Regions from separate parts of the Homo sapiens genome. Here region 2 is linked to region 1. The links come from fine-mapping of genetic effects on gene expression. A gene starts in region 1. The other region holds a variant in brackets. All regions are shown on one strand. Distances are between the middles of the regions. Region 1 holds the start of RND3 (Rho family GTPase 3). Region 2 has its middle 5.5 kb from the start of LINC01920.

Evidence for each region. PIP is the estimated chance that this variant, and not a neighbour inherited with it, causes the effect.
Region 2: its variant is the best candidate, but not a certain one, in a credible set for the expression of RND3 in skeletal muscle (GTEx, PIP 0.70).

The regions. Positions count from the first base shown.
Region 1 is chr2:150,485,955-150,488,742 of GRCh38, reverse strand. RND3 (Rho family GTPase 3) reads left to right here and starts at 1,076. Exons shown (of 6, transcript NM_005168.5): 1 at 1,076-1,194; 2 at 1,288-1,475; 3 at 1,962-2,049. The coding sequence starts at 1,326.
Region 2 is chr2:150,576,322-150,579,109 of GRCh38, reverse strand. No RefSeq gene overlaps it. Among named protein-coding and RNA genes, the nearest start is that of LINC01920, 5.5 kb to the right of the region's middle. The variant C/G (reference allele first, on the strand shown) is at 1,291.

The DNA.
Region 1 (2,788 bases):
TGGCCAGTGTGCTACTACATTGTAACAATTGAAACCTCCTGAGCATTTAGGGTGCAGGAGCTGAAGATGAGAAAAAGAAAGACTTCTCATAGAAAAAGAACAAATGTGCGGGCTATTCTGGTCCTTTCTAAGATTTTTGCTTGCGGGGAAGAGTTGGAGGGCTAGGGAGATGGATGTGGAGGAGGACAGAAGAGAGGGTGGAGGGTTGTATCTGCATTTTTCAGCTAAAGATGTTTGTGCCTTCTGAGTCCAGTCTAGGGTGCTTTGATTCCGGGAAGATGGAGGCTATAGATAAAGAATTAATAGTATCAAAATCTGCCCCCCCACCAGTCCCCTCACTGCAAATGTGGGGAGGTGCAACTAAGCTGACAAGTGTTTGGGTCCCTAGCGCAGTAGGGTTGAGTTTCCAATGGCCTTTGTCACTCAGTCATGGGCATCTTCCACTTCTCTTTCTTCTCCCCTCCCACCTCCTGTACCCACCCCTCGAAACCTTTCTGCCTCCACTTGTACGACTGAAACTGACAGGTTTCAGAAGCCAGTCTACTACCGTGACCCAGGCAAGCCTGTTCTTGCATCTGGAATAAAGAGGCTGATCTATTGGTCCATGGCCTATGTACCTGATACAAACCATTAAAAAAAAAAATAGAACCACTCAACTATTCTCCACCCAAGATTTGCTTCCTATGTTTTATCACTGTCCTTTAACTTGGGTGGGAAATGTTTTTGTTTTCATAAATGCTCATGAGGCTTCTACAGATAAGCCCCTATTAAACTATATTTAAAGGGATTGTAGTTCAAATCAGTATGCACAGATACCAGTTTCCCACCTTGCCCTGTGGACTTGTCAGCAAAGCATCTTTGGGATCTTCATGTTGTCTAAGAGCCTTGGTCTAAAATAGATCCCGAATGGGCACCCTAGAGGGCGCACTGCTTACATTTTCGGCATGCAACGCCAACAGCGCTCGCTCCCAGGCTCCATAAAAGGGGAGGAGGCAGATCAGTTTCCTCCTCTCATTGAGAAAGAAGAGGATTGGAAGGCCGGGCGTATAAAGCCGCGCAGAGAGCGTGAAACAAAGCAGTCGGCTCGGAATTGGACTTGGGAGGCGCGGTGAGGAGTCAGGCTTAAAACTTGTTGGAGGGGAGTAACCAGCCTGCTCCTCTCGCTCTCCTCCTCGTCTGCGCCGCGTTTCAGAGGTTGCCCATCAGCCTTGTGATTTATTTTTATATCTGCTTTTTATAAAGAGAGAAATATATATATATATATATATTTTTTTTTTTCTTCTTAAGAGAAAATTCCTGTTCCAAGAGAAAATAAGGCAACATCAATGAAGGAGAGAAGAGCCAGCCAGAAATTATCCAGCAAATCTATCATGGATCCTAATCAGAACGTGAAATGCAAGATAGTTGTGGTGGGAGACAGTCAGTGTGGAAAAACTGCGCTGCTCCATGTCTTCGCCAAGGACTGCTTCCCCGAGGTGAGTGTGGCCGGCCGCGGCTTCCACGAGGGGGTCGGCCAGTGGGATCCCAGTCCCGAGGTGGGCCTCCCCGCTTTCATCCGTTTTCCCTTAAAAAAAAAAAAAAAGAAAAAAAAAAGTCTTTCTCGGTCCTTACTACTTTCCCCTGATTAGACTGCGGGGAAAGGGAAAGTGCGCTGGAAGCTTTTAGGGTTGGGACGCGCCTGCACATGGGCTGGTTAGCTCCTGAAACTTGTTCGTTCCTGTGTGCATAACCTGGGGTTGGGAGATTCGGGTCAGCAGATCTGTGAGAGCCGGGTGGGGTGAGTGGGGAGTAGGACAGGGGTTTCGGAAAGGGTCCATGTGCTTAGTGTGTGGTCTGATGTGTGAAGGTTTTCTTTCTTAACTGGGGAGCGGGGAGGGGAAGGGTGTTCAATGGGTGTCGTGCGTTTAAACGTAACCTCTTTGCCCTCTTTCCTTCCTCTTTTGCCCATTTTGTCTATCCAGAATTACGTTCCTACAGTGTTTGAGAATTACACGGCCAGTTTTGAAATCGACACACAAAGAATAGAGTTGAGCCTGTGGGACACTTCGGGTAAGAGTGGGAGGACCGCGTGGCGCTTGGGGCGGGTTTCCAGTCGCTGGGGGATGCGCGGCGGGTCTCGGGAAACCGCGCGCTACAAGCCGTCTGCGCCCCTCCCAAGGGATTCCCACGGTCCCTGTTGGGCGAAAATTGTATCCCTTCTGGGTGGGGGCGGCAGACGACAGCGTGGACGAGGAGATAGCAGTGGGGAGAGGAGAGCGCTGTGTGCCCGCAGGGTGACCCCGCGGTTGGAGCCACTAGTGGCCAGGCGCAGTCCGCCCGCGGAGTCGTGGTCAAGTCGCCTTGGGTCGGCCGAGGTGGCCCGATACTGTGGGGTGTTGCATGGGCGCTGCGTGCGCCTCGGCGGAACCACCCGGCTCAAGGCGGGCGCCCCTCCTAGATCTAACCTGCTGGTTGGCGGGGAGGCGGGGAGCGCCGCGGGGGTGATGGGAGGCGGGAGAAAATCCCAGAGGCGACGCGGTTACGTGCAATTGCCGCTGTTGAGGGAAAGAAACTGAGCGCAGGCAGCCGCGGCGCCCGTGACGCCTACACCCAGGAATGCGCTGGTGGCGCAGGGGCCGGGCAGCAGCTGAACCTCCTCTTCGCGCTGCCGGCCGCCCGCGGTGCCTCGGTGCCCACCTGTACCGAGCTTTTCCCTTTTTCCCCCACTCCATCCCAGTGATCACGTCCGTTTCCCCTTCACCACACCAGCCCCTCCTGACCTCTATTGCATCCCCCACTCGGCTTGCCT
Region 2 (2,788 bases), 90 kb before region 1:
TTTGGAAAATGTGCAGCCTGGCTATGTGATAGAAAAGAAAAGCCCATTTTCAGTTGAGGAATTCAAATAGGCTGCAGAAATTTGCATAAGTAAAAAGAAGAAGCTAAGTGCTAATAGCCAAAAAATGGGGAAAAGGTCTCAAAGGCATTTGACATTTTGTGGACCAGGCCCAGGCCCTGCCTCCCTGTGCAGCCTCAGGACACTGCTCTCTGCATCCTAGTCACTTCAGCCATGGCCCAAAGGGGCCCAGATACAGTTTGGGCCACTGCTTCACAGGGTGCAATCCATAAACCTTGGTGGCTTCCATGTGGTATTAAGCCTGTGGGTGCATAGAGTGCAAAAGTTGAGGCTTGGGAGCCTTCATCTAGATTTCAGAGGATGTATGGAAATGCCTGGATGTCCAGGCAGAAGTCTGCTGCAGGGGTGGAGCCCTCATGGAGAACGTCTACAAGGAAAGTGCTTAGTGGAACTGTGAGAAGAGGGCCACCGTCTCCAGACCCCAGAATGGTAGAATAACTGGCAGCTTGCACCCTGTGCCTGAAAAAGTTGCAGACACACAATGCCAGCCCTTGAGAGCACCTGTGGGGGCTGAACCCTGCAAAGCCATGGTGGCAGAGCTGCCCAAGGCCTTGGGAGCCTACCCTTGCATCAGAGTGCCCTGGATGTGGGACATGAAGCTAAAGGAGATTATTTTGGAGCTTTAAGATTTAATGACTGCCCTGCTGGGTTTAGCACTTGCATGGGGCCTGTAGCACCTGTATTTTGGTCAATTTCTCCCTTTTGAAACAGAAGTATTTACCCAATGCTTATGCCTCCATTGCATCTTGGGAGTAACTTATTTTTTATTTTACAGGCTCATAGGCAGAAGGGACTAGCCTTGTCTCAGATGAGACTTTAAACTGTGGACTTGTGAGTCTGTGCTGGAACGAGTTAAGACTTTGGGGGACTGTTGGGAAGGCATGATTGTATTTTGCAATCAGGGAAGGAGGTGAAATTTGAGAGGGGCCAGGGGCAGAATGATGTGGTTTGGATCTGTGTCCCTGCCCAAATATCATGTCGAATTGTAATCCTCAGTGTTGGAGGAGGGGCCTAGTAGGAGGTGATTGGATTCATGGAGTGGATTCTTCGTGAATGGTTTAGCATCATCTCTCGGTGTTGTTATTGTGCTGGAATGAGTTAGACTTTGGGAAACTGTTGGGAAGGCATGATTGTATTTTGCAATCAGGGAAGGACATGAAATGTGGGAGGGGCCAGGGGCAGAATGATGTGGTTTGGATCTGTGTCCCTGCC[C/G]AAATATCATGTCGAATTGTAATCCTCAGTGTTGGAGGAGGGGCCTAGTAGGAGGTGATTGGATTCATGGAGTGGATTCTTCGTGAATGGTTTAGCATCATCCCTTGGTGTTGTTCTTGTGATAGTGAATTATTGAGTTCTCACAAGATCTGGTTGTTTAAAAGTAGGTAGTACCTCCCTCCTCTCTCTCTTCCTGCTGCTCCCATCATGTGAGGTGTGCCTGCTCCTACTTTGCCTTCTGTCATGAGTAAAAGCTCCCTAAGGCCTCTCCAGGAGCAGAAGCCACTATGTTTCCTATATAGCCTATGGAATGAGCCAATGAAACCTCTTTTCTTTATAAATTACGCAGTCCCCGGTATTTATGGCAATACCGGGGACTGCGTAACAGTCTGAGAACAGGCTAAGTCTTTTTCTCATAGTATGATTCTTTTTTCTTTGTGTTTCCTGTGCTATTTACTTTATGATTATTAATACTACATTATTTGGTATATGGCTATTCCTAATTATTAAACACTATCGTAAATTTCATTCTTTACCAATCTAAGTTGACTATAATTGTATCATCAAATGCCTTTTTTTCCCCCTACTTATTTTTCTTTTTCTTTTTTTTTGAGACGGAGTCTCACTCTGTCGCCCAAGCTGGAGTGCAGTGGTGTGATCTCGGCTCACTGTAAGCTTGCCTCCCGGGTTCACACCATTCTCCTGCCTCAGCCACCCGAGTAGCTGGGACTACAGGTGCCTGCCACCATGCCTGGCTAATTTTTGTATTTTAATAGAGACGGGGTTTCATTGTGTTAGCCAGGATGGTCTCAAACTCCTGACCTCGTGATCCACCCGCCTCGGCCTCCCAAAGTGCTGGGATTATAGGCGTGAGCCACCGTGCGCAGTTCCTATTTACTTTTTCTAATACTAAGGTTGTAACCCCTGCTTTCCTAATTGTTTGCTTGCATTTTTCTCACATGCATTTTCCCATAATTTAATTTACAACTTTTCTTATTTTGTTTTTTTGTTTTAAGTATCTGTTGTATAAAGCCTACAATTAAATTTAGCTTTACAATTTCCAAAAAAAAAAATCTTTTTTTGGGATTTTGAATAGGCAAATTTGTCCATTAATACATTTATTAATGTGAAAATAATGTTTGATCTTAGAAGTATGTAATATTTTACACCACCTTCATCTCAGTTTTTATTCTTACTTTGTATGGTTTTCTATAAGATCTGTATTTTCTTTGCTTTGTGGCTATCTTAATTCTTATGACTTAAAAGGTTTTCATATTTGTTCTGTATGATTGACATTATACAATGTCCTTAATCCTGTATTTCTTTTGAAAGACTGTTAATTCCTTACTATAAGCAATGACAAAATACATATTGTTCCATTTCTCATTCCTTTCCCTGGCACCATCCAAATTTTGGATGATTATGTGTTTTGTCCTAATATTTGCCTTTCTGTCTTTATGCTTCACCTTTTGTGACTTAACTGTGCAGACTAAAATAA